Linked DNA regions of Homo sapiens. The main gene of each other region encodes a partner of the protein of the gene in region 3 in a complex. Each region holds a gene or a part of one and is shown on either strand. Other genes may lie near its edges. The genes, in order: SNRPD1, PRPF3 and LSM7.

Evidence for each region.
Region 1: LSM7 (region 3) and SNRPD1 share a complex: the UniProt entries of both Homo sapiens proteins name them as parts of the U4/U6-U5 tri-snRNP complex.
Region 2: LSM7 (region 3) and PRPF3 share a complex: the UniProt entries of both Homo sapiens proteins name them as parts of the precatalytic spliceosome.

The regions. Positions count from the first base shown.
Region 1 is NC_000018.10:21,615,182-21,618,835, reverse strand, and holds part of SNRPD1 (small nuclear ribonucleoprotein Sm D1), read right to left. Parts: intron 1-3,654. UniProt on the Homo sapiens protein: Plays a role in pre-mRNA splicing as a core component of the spliceosomal U1, U2, U4 and U5 small nuclear ribonucleoproteins (snRNPs), the building blocks of the spliceosome.
Region 2 is NC_000001.11:150,334,946-150,338,599, forward strand, and holds part of PRPF3 (U4/U6 small nuclear ribonucleoprotein Prp3), read left to right. Parts: coding exon 1-296; intron 297-3,214; coding exon 3,215-3,381; intron 3,382-3,654. UniProt on the Homo sapiens protein: Plays a role in pre-mRNA splicing as component of the U4/U6-U5 tri-snRNP complex that is involved in spliceosome assembly, and as component of the precatalytic spliceosome (spliceosome B complex).
Region 3 is NC_000019.10:2,321,017-2,323,453, forward strand, and holds the end of LSM7 (U6 snRNA-associated Sm-like protein LSm7), read right to left. Parts: intron 807-2,437; coding exon 664-806; 3' UTR 505-663; downstream 1-504. UniProt on the Homo sapiens protein: Plays a role in pre-mRNA splicing as component of the U4/U6-U5 tri-snRNP complex that is involved in spliceosome assembly, and as component of the precatalytic spliceosome (spliceosome B complex).

The DNA.
Region 1 (3,654 bases), on a different chromosome or scaffold from region 3:
ACCTTAAAATGCCTTTTTTTAATTTCTTTTTTTTTAGTGGTATAGACAGCCATCACAAAAAAGAAATTACTTGGTCTGGGATATAACAAGCCTCAAACTTTAAGAAGACTCATGAGTTGAATCTCTTTTTATATATGACATCAAGAAAACGTTTTTCTCAACGAATTGGTAACACTTTATTTCACCAGAGAGTTATTCAGCTCCAAATTTAACAATCAATTATAACTAGAAAAGCCTAGAATTCTGAACTAATGGTTTCCTCCCATTATCAAGTTTTTGTTTTTATCTTTTACACGAATTTACTATCCCAGTTAGTAAGAACTTTTACTATAAAAGTTCTTCAAATCATTTTTGGAAGCAAAGAAGATAAATAAAAGGAAAAAAAAAACCTTATGTGGCCAGGCGCGGTGGCTCAGATACATAAAAGATACGTAAAAATAACTAAGTTGTAGAAAGCAATAAAGATATACAGAGGTTTTTTTTGTGTTTTTTTTTAAACAGAGGTTTTTAGTTTAGGTTTTTTCTGAGACTATGCCACCATGCCCGGCTAATATTTTTTAAATTTTTAAATTTTTTGTAGAGATGTGGTTTTGCCATGTTGCCTAGACTAGTCTTAAACTCCTGAGCTCAAGCAATCAGCCTGCCTTGGCCTCCCAAAGTGCTGGGATTACAAGCGTGAGCCACTGCACCCAGCTACACACAGGTTTTTTACTAAGAATATATTGTAGCATGTGGAGAGGGGAGTCAGGTATTAGGGGACTCCTAGTAAGAAGCCTGAAAAGTTGGAAATATGCAGCAAGAAGAAACAAAAGAAAAAATACAGCATAAGACACAGAGTAATTATAGATACAAAGATGGAGTCTTGTTCTGTTGCCCAGGCTGGAGTGCAATAGCGCAATCTCAATCTGAGCTCATTGCAACCTCCGTCTCCCGGGTTCAAGAGATTCTTGTGCCTCAGCCTCCCAAGTAGCTGAGACTACAGGCGCATGCCACCACACCCAGCTAATTTTTGTATTTTTAGTAGAGACGGGGTTTTACCATGTTGGCCCAAGTGATCTGCCTGCCTCGGCCTCACAAAGTGCTACGATGACAAGCATGAACCACCACGCCTGGCCGATGAAATGTTAAGTTCAATATTTTAGGTCCTATGAGTAGAGAGGAGTTAGGCAGGTTCCTTTCATGGAAAGCCTAAGCTCTGTTAAAGAATTCCTCTAGGAGAGCTACTGAAGGATTTTCATCAATGAAGTGGAGTACCAGGCTCATATTCACATTTAAAAGAGAACCTAGGGCCAATGTTCAGAAACAGATTTTAGAAAGACAAGAGACCAAAGTATAATCTCTAGGAAGACAAATTATGTGACTAGAGCAGTACATATACAAGTTAAAACTACAGTAATCGAGACATAAGGAACAACAAATAGATCAATGAAACAATACAAGCAAACAGATCTATTTCTGGTCCCACATTTACATGGTTGATTTAGCTGGGATTACAGGCACTCGCCACCACAACCAGCTAATTTTTGTATTTCTTTTTGTTTTAGTAGAGCCGGGGTTTCACCATGTTGGTCAGGCTGGTCTCGAACTCCTGACCTCAGGTGATCTGCCTGCCTTGGATTCCGAAAAGTGCTGGGATTACAGGCATGAGCCACCAAGCCTGGCCTTATATGGTTGATTTTTTACAAAGGTGCCAAAGACGTGTAACAGGCAAAGGAAAGTGTTTTCAACAAATGATGCTGGAATAACTGGAAATCCATACAGAAAAAAAACGAACCTGGACCACTAACACCATTTTCCAAAAGTAATCCAAGATGGATGATAGTCACTTGAGCCCAAGAGTTCCAGATATAGGCTGGGCACAGTGGCTCACGCCTGTAATCCCAGCACTTTGGGAGGCCAAGGCAGGCAGATCACAAGGTCAGGAGATCGAGACCAGCCTGGCCAAAGTGGTGAAATCCCATCTCTACTAAAATACAAAAAAAATAAGCCAGGCATAGTGGCACATGCCTGTAGTCCCAGCTACTCGGGAGGCTGAGGCAGGGGAATCACTTGAACCTGGGAGGTGGAGGTCGCAGTGAGCCGAGAGTGCGCCACTGCACTCCAGTCTGGCAACAGAGCAAGACTCCATCTCAAAAAAAAAAAAAAAGACTTAAAGAGTTCCAGATACATAAAAATCGATCAGTCAGGCATGGTGGCTCACGCCTGTAATCCCAGTACTTTGGGAGGCCAAGGCGGGTGGATCACAAGGTCAGGAGTTCGAGACCAGCCTGACCAACATGGTGAAACCCTGTCTCTACTAAAAATACAAAAATTAGCCAGGCGTGGTGGCAGGCGCCTGTAATCCCAGCTACTTGGGAGGCTGAGGTAGGAGAATCGCTTGAACCTGGAAGGCAGAGGTTGCAGTGAGCTGAGATCGCACAATTGTACTCCAGCCTGAGCTACAAGAAGAGAGACACTATTAAGGAAATGAACATGTAAACCACACACTGAGAGAAAACACATCTGACAAAGAACTGGTATCCAGGACACAGATCTAATTTCTACAACTCTGGGCTGGGCGCAGTGGCTCACGCCAGTAATCCCAGCACTTTGGGAGGCCAAGGCGGGCGGATCACGAGGTCAGGAGATTGAGAACATCCTGGCTAACACGGTGAAATCCCGTCTCTACTAAAAATACAAAAAATTAGCCGGGCGTGGTGGCAGGCGCCTGTAGTCCCAGCTACTCGGGAGGCTGAGGCAGGAGAATGGCGTGAACCCAGGAGGCGGAGCTTGCAGTGAACCAAGATCATGCCACTGCACTCCAGCCTGGGTGACAGAGTGAGACTCCGCCTCAAAAACAAACAAATAAGCAAAAAACCGACTAAACCCTAAGGAGATACCACTACATACCCACTAAAATGGCTAAAATTAAAGACTGAGCAAACAACACCACATACTGGTGAGGATGTGGACCAATTGTTATTCTAATATATTGTTAATGGAAGTGTAAAATGGTACAACCACTTTGGAAAATGGTCTGGAAATTTCTTAAAAAGCTAAACACATAACTATGTTACAGTCCATCAACTCCACTCGAGTATTTACCCACGAAAATTTGTTTCCCTCCAAAAACCTGAAGAATATTCAACGTAGTTGTAAACAAAATACATAACTTTTTATTTTATTTTCTTGTAATTTTTTAAAATACGGAGCTTTTTTTTTCTTTTTTCTTTTTTTTTGAGACGGAGTCTCGCTCTGTTGCCCAAGCTGGAGTGCAATGGCGTGATCTCAGCTCACTGCAATCTCCACCTCCTGGGTTCAAGGGATTCTCCTGCCTCAGCCTCCCTTGTAGCTGGGATTACAGGCACCTGCCACCATGCCCAGCTACTTTTTTGGTATTTTTAGTAGAGATGGGGTTTCACCATGTTGGTCAGGCTGGTTTCAAACTCCTGACCTCAGGTGATCTACCCGCCTCGGCCTCCCAAAGTGCTGGGATTACAGACGTGAGCCACTGCGCCCGGCCTAAAATACAGAACTTCCAAACACACAATGCACTAATATCCAGTAATAAAAATGAACACATTACTGATACACTTCACAATGTGGATGAATCTCAAAAACATGTAACTAAAAGAAGTTTTACGCAAAAATACTTTGTGATTCCAAATATATGAA
Region 2 (3,654 bases), on a different chromosome or scaffold from region 3:
TAAAAGACCAAACGAAACCTACACCACTGATCCTGGATGAGCAAGGGCGCACTGTAGATGCAACAGGCAAGGAGATTGAGCTGACACACCGCATGCCTACTCTGAAAGCCAATATTCGTGCTGTGAAGAGGGAACAATTCAAGCAACAACTAAAGGAAAAGCCATCAGAAGACATGGAATCCAATACCTTTTTTGACCCCCGAGTCTCCATTGCCCCTTCCCAGCGCCAGAGACGCACTTTTAAATTCCATGACAAGGGCAAATTTGAGAAGATTGCTCAGCGATTACGGACAAAGGTATCTGGCTTAGAGTATAACACAGAATTTGGAAAAAGTTAAGAAGCTGACAAGAAAACATTGTTAAATCTCTGTGTTCTAGGAAATTAGATAAATAGGTCATTTAAAGCAGCAGTCCTCAACCTTTTTGGCACCAGGGACTTGTTTCATGGAAGATAATTTTTCCCCTGGAGTAAGGATGGTTTCGTGATGGTTCAAGCACATAGCATTTATTGTGTACTTTATTATTATTATTTTTTTCGAGATGGAGTGTCGCTCTTGTTGCCCAGGCTGGAGTGCAATGGGGCGATCTCGGCTTGCTGCAACCTTTGCCTCCCAGGTTCAAGTGATTCTCCTGCCTCAGCCTCCCGAGTAGCTGGGATCACAGGCATGTGCCACCACGCCTGGCTAATTTTGTATTTTTGGTGGAGACGGGGTTTCTCCGTGTTGGTCAGGCTGGTCTCGAACTCCTGACCTCAGGTGATCTGCCCACTTTGTCCTCCCAAAGTGCTGGGATTACAGGCGTGAGCCACCGCCCCCGCCTTTTTTTTTTTTGGGCGGGGAGGGGGATGGAGTCTTGCACTGTTACCTGGGCTGGAGTGCAGTGGTACAGTCTCAGCTCACTGCAACCTCTGCCTCCTGGGTTCAAGCAATTCTCCTGCCTCAGCCTCCTGAGTAGCTGGGACTGCAGGCATGCGCCGCCATGCCTGACGAATTTTTTGTATTTTTAGTAGAGACAGGGTTTCACTATGTTGGCCCGGCTGGTCTTAAACTCCTGACCTTGTGATCTGCCTGCCTTGACCTCCCAAAGTGCTGGGATTATAGGCGTGAGCCACTGTGCTGGCCTATTTCTATTATTATTTTATTGTAATATATGATGAAATAATTATATAACTCACCATAATATAAAATCACTGGGAGCCTTGAGCTTGTTTTCCTGCTGAAATGGTCCCATTTGGGTGTGATGGGAGACAGTGACAGATCATCAGGCATTAGATTCTCATAAGGAATGTGCAACATAGCCCCCTCACATGTACAGTTCACAATAGGGTTCGCGCTCCTCTGAGAATCTCATGCCACCGATGATCTGACAGGAGGTGGAGCTCAGGCCATAATGCAGGTAATAGGGAGCAATCGTAAGTACAGATGAGACTGTTGGCTTGCCTGCTGCTCACCTCCTGTTGTGCAGCCCAGTTCCTAAAAGACTGTTGGGTTGGGGACCCCTGATTTAAAGCAATGAATACTTTGAAAAATGTGCTGGACAAGATGGCTCAAGCCTGTAATCCCAGCGCTTTGGGAGGCCGAGGTGGGTGGATCACGAGGTCAGGAGTTCAAGACCAGCCTGCCCAACATGGTGAAACCCCGTCTCTACTAAAAGTACAAAAATTAACCGAGCGTGGTGGTGGGTGCCTGTAATCCTAGCTACTTGGGAGGCTGAGTCAGGAGAATCACTTGAAACTGGAAGGCAGAGGTTGCAGTGAGCTGAGATCGCACCACTGCACTCCAGCATGGGCAAAAGAGCGAAACTCCGTCTCAAAAAATATATATATATATTTATTAATATAATACATAATTTTTTTAGCAGATTTTACTTCCTAATTCGTTTCTACATAAGTGGAAATATTATGAAATTGAGTTTGAAAATTCTCCACATACAACTAAGTGGAGGGAAACAATTTGAAACATTCTGAGTGACTAAGGAAGGCTTGCCTGTAGTTAAAATTTAATGAGACAGTACACCTGGAGAGTTGAATTGATTGTATATTGAATGACCTTTGCCGCCTTTTTATCCTCTCAAAGTGAGGTTTTCATAAAATTCCTTTTTTTTTTTTTTTTGAGACGGAGTCTCGCTCTGTCACCCAGGCTGCAGTGCAGTGGCACGATCTCAGCTCACTGAAAGCTCCGCCTTCCAGGTTCATGCCATTCTCCTGCCTCAGCCTGCTGAGTAGCTGGGACTATAGGCGCCCGCCACCACGCCCGGCTAATTTTTTTGTATTTTTAGTAGAGACGGGGTTTCACCGTGTTAGCCAGGATGGTCTCGATCTCCTGACCTCATGATCCTCCCGCCTCGGCCTCTCAAAGTGCTGGGATTACAGGCGTGAGCCACCACACCCGGCCATAAAATTCTATTTCTGCGTATTTACTGCAGGCATATACTGTGGAGTGCAGGGAGGGGTTGAAGGTGAGATCTATGTATATGAACTAAATAAAGGATAAAATAAAGCAGAACAACTCCTTTCTAAGCTTTCAGAAATTATGAACTTGTTGCGTTAGGTGTAAAGAGTTCAACGGGGAAGTGTTTTAAAATTTGGGATTCTTGGCCGAGGTGGGCGAATCACTAGGTCAGGAGATCGAGACCATCCTGGCTAACATGGTGAAACCACTTCTCTACTAAAAATACAAAAAAATGAGCCGGGCGTGGTGATGGGCGCCTGTAGTCCCAGCTACTCGGGAGGCTGAGTCAGGAGAATGGCGTGAACCCGGGAGGTGGAGCTTACACTGCACTGCACTGCAGCCTGGGTGACAGAGTGAGACTCCGTCTACAAAAAAAAAAAAAAATATTTGGGATTCTGGCCGGGCACAGTGGCTCATGCCTGTAATCCCATCACTTTGGGAGGCCGAGGCGGGCAGATCACCTGAGGTCGGGAGTTTGAGACCAGGCTGAGCAACGTGGAGAAACCCCATCTCTACTAAAAATACAAAATTAGCTGAGGGTGGTGGCACATGCCTGTAATCCCAGCTACTGAGGAGGCTTAGGCAGGAGAATCGCTTAAACCTGGAAGGTAGAGGTTGCTGTTAGCCAAGACCATGCCATTGCACTCCAGCCTGGGCAAGAAGAACGAAACTCCGTCTCAAAAAAAAAAAAAAATTGAGATTCTACACATTCTGTTTTCTATGACTCCAATTTATCTTTCTGTCTTGGATTATCTTGTTTTTAGGCTCAACTGGAGAAGCTACAGGCAGAGATTTCACAAGCAGCTCGAAAAACAGGCATCCATACTTCGACTAGGCTTGCCCTCATTGCTCCTAAGAAGGAGCTAAAGGAAGGAGATATTCCTGAAATTGAGTGGTGGGACTCTTACATAATCCCCAATGGCTTTGATCTGTGAGTTTGTTTTAGTACCTTTTTAAAAAAACAGTTTTTAATCAGCTGAGTTTAAGACTCAAGTTAATACCTTTTAGTAAAGCTATGGTTTTAGTGGGAAGGATGGTACTCATTCATTAATTAAAATTTTTAAATCCAAGAGAGATAAGTAACTGTACACAAGGTCCTGTTATTTTTTTTTTTTTTTTTTTTGAGAGGGAGTCTCGCTCTGTCACCCAGGCTGGAGTGCAGTGGCACGATCTCAGCTCACTGCAACCTCCACCTCCCGGGTTC
Region 3 (2,437 bases):
GGGCAGCAGCGGGGGCAGGTGTTAGCTGCATGGGCTGTGGGGTCTGGCCTCTTGATGCACCCCGGCTCCTGATGCACCCCAGCCTCCTGATGCACCCCGGCTCCTGATTCACCCCAGGTCCTGACACACCCAGCTCCTGACACACCCAGCCTCCTAATGCACCCCAGCCTCCTAATGCACCCCGGCTCCTGACGCACCCCGGCCTCCTGATGCACCCCGGCCTCCTGATATACCCCAGCCTCCTGATGCATCCCGGCTCCTGATGCACCCCAGCTCCTGCTGTCTTGGGGGCGGGCCTGGGGTTCCACAAGCCCCTCATCAGACTGAGGTTCCAAACTCGCCTGTCTCGGCCTTGGCTGTGCCCGCCTTGGTCACTCCTGAACCCTCACCCCCAGGAGGGACCATGGCTGGTATTTGATGAGCTCCAGGGACTGAGTCCAATCTCCAGGAATCCAGGTTTCCTCAGAAGGTCAAGGGAAAAGCAAGATTCGGGGCTCAGACACATTGAGGTTTGCAATTTTATTAAGAAAACAAAAATTCAACCTATACAAAAAGGAAAATGCTTCCGTTCCAGGAGGCGGTACTGCGGTGGGAGCAGCAGCCAAGTCCGCGGGAAACCGAGCTGCTCGGGCCTGCCCTGCACCCCCCGCGCCCCCGGCCAGGCTAGGCGTCCTGCTGCTGGATGAAGGGGTTGGGGATGGCCTCCATGCCGTCCTGCGGGCAGATTAGCACCACGGACGTGCCCCGGCACACCACGAGGCCCAGCTGCCGGGTGTCCTCCGTGAGCTTGTACTGGTCGTCAGGGTCTGGGGAGGAGCAGATAGAGAGGACTGAGGGACCTCCAGGAAGCCTCCGAGACCCCCCACCCACCCAAGACCCTCGCTCCGACCTCCCCACCTGCACCCTGCAGGCGCCACGAGCACGCAGGGACCTCAGACGGGATGCGCTCTGTGGGGCAGGTCCCCGGCTCCCACGGCTGAGACCCATGGCCCCTAGAGACCAGTGGCAGCTCCACAGACAGCAGCCACAGCCCTCCCTCACTCCACAAACCATGGGAACAAGAAGGCCCAGGTGATAGCCGGCTACCCCGCGTCTCAGAGCTCACTGGGGCCCAGGCACCAGGGCCGGGAACCAGGTTATCAGATGGCCGGCCAGAATACAGGCACCCTGGGCCTCCTGGTCTCTGCAAGGTCCCTGGAGCCCTAGGGGGCCAATATTCACCCTATAACAAAGAGGCTGGGGGCCGGGCGCGGTGGCTCACGCCTGTAATCCCAGCACTTTGGGAGGCCAAGGCAGGCGGATCACGAGGTCAGGAGATCGAGACCATCCTGGCTAACTTGGTGAAACCCCGTCTCTACTAAAAAATACAAAAAAATTAGCCGGGCGTGGTGGCAGGCACTTGGAGTCCCAGCTACTCGGGAGGCTGAGGCAGGAGAATGGTGTGAACCCAGGAGGCGGAGCTTGCAGTGAGCCGAGATCGCGCCACTGCACTCCAGCCTGGGTGACAGAGCGAGATTCCATCTCAAAAAATAAAAAAATAAAGAGGCTGTTCATGTGGGGTGGGGACCATGTGGGCTGGCACCCCAGGGAAGTGCCAGCAAGCCCAAGACAAGCTCTCAAGAGGCTGAAGGCGATTAAAACTCCTCACTACTGTGGTCCTGCAGTGGTGGGGGCATGGGAGAACCATGGGGCCCAGGTTTTTAAACTTTTTTTCAGACACCAGGTCTTGCTCTGTTGCTCAGGTTGGAGTGCAGCAGTGCAATCACAGCTCACAGCCTCAACCTCCTGGGCTCAAACAATCCTCCTGCCTTAGCCTCCTGAGTAGCTGGGGCCACAGGCACATGTACCGCCATGCCTGGCTAATTACATTTTTTTTTTTTTTGTAGAGACAGGGTCTCACTATGTTGCCCAGGCTGGTCTCAAATTCCTGGGCTCGAGTGATCCTCCTGTCTTGGCCTCCCAAAGTGCTGGGATTACAGGCATGAGCCACCATGGCCAGCTACAAGAATAAATCTTGTCTCAGTATCAATGGATCCAAGGGGCAAGACCCTCTCTCTCCTAAGTCCTGACATTCCCCCAGTGCCCGGGCCGGGATGGGGACTTGCCAGCTGGGGACTTGCCGCAGGAGCTTCTGGGGGAGAGTCTGAGGACTTGGCGGCCTCACTGGGGAGGGGAGCGAGCGGGGGCAGGGAAATGAGGGAGGGTCCTCTGGGGAGGAGACAGGGACCCTGCGTTCATAGCGGGAATTAACAAGGGCAGAAGAGGAAAGGCGCCCGAGAGGAGCCCCACGGCACGCTCACTACCCCACAGCAAGGCTGCTCTCCGCTGGGCGCCACAGCTCACGCCTGGAACCCCAGCACTGTGGGAGGCTGAAGCAGGAGGATGGCTTGAGCCCAGGAGTTCGAGACCAGCCCGGGCAACACAGTGAGACCTCAGC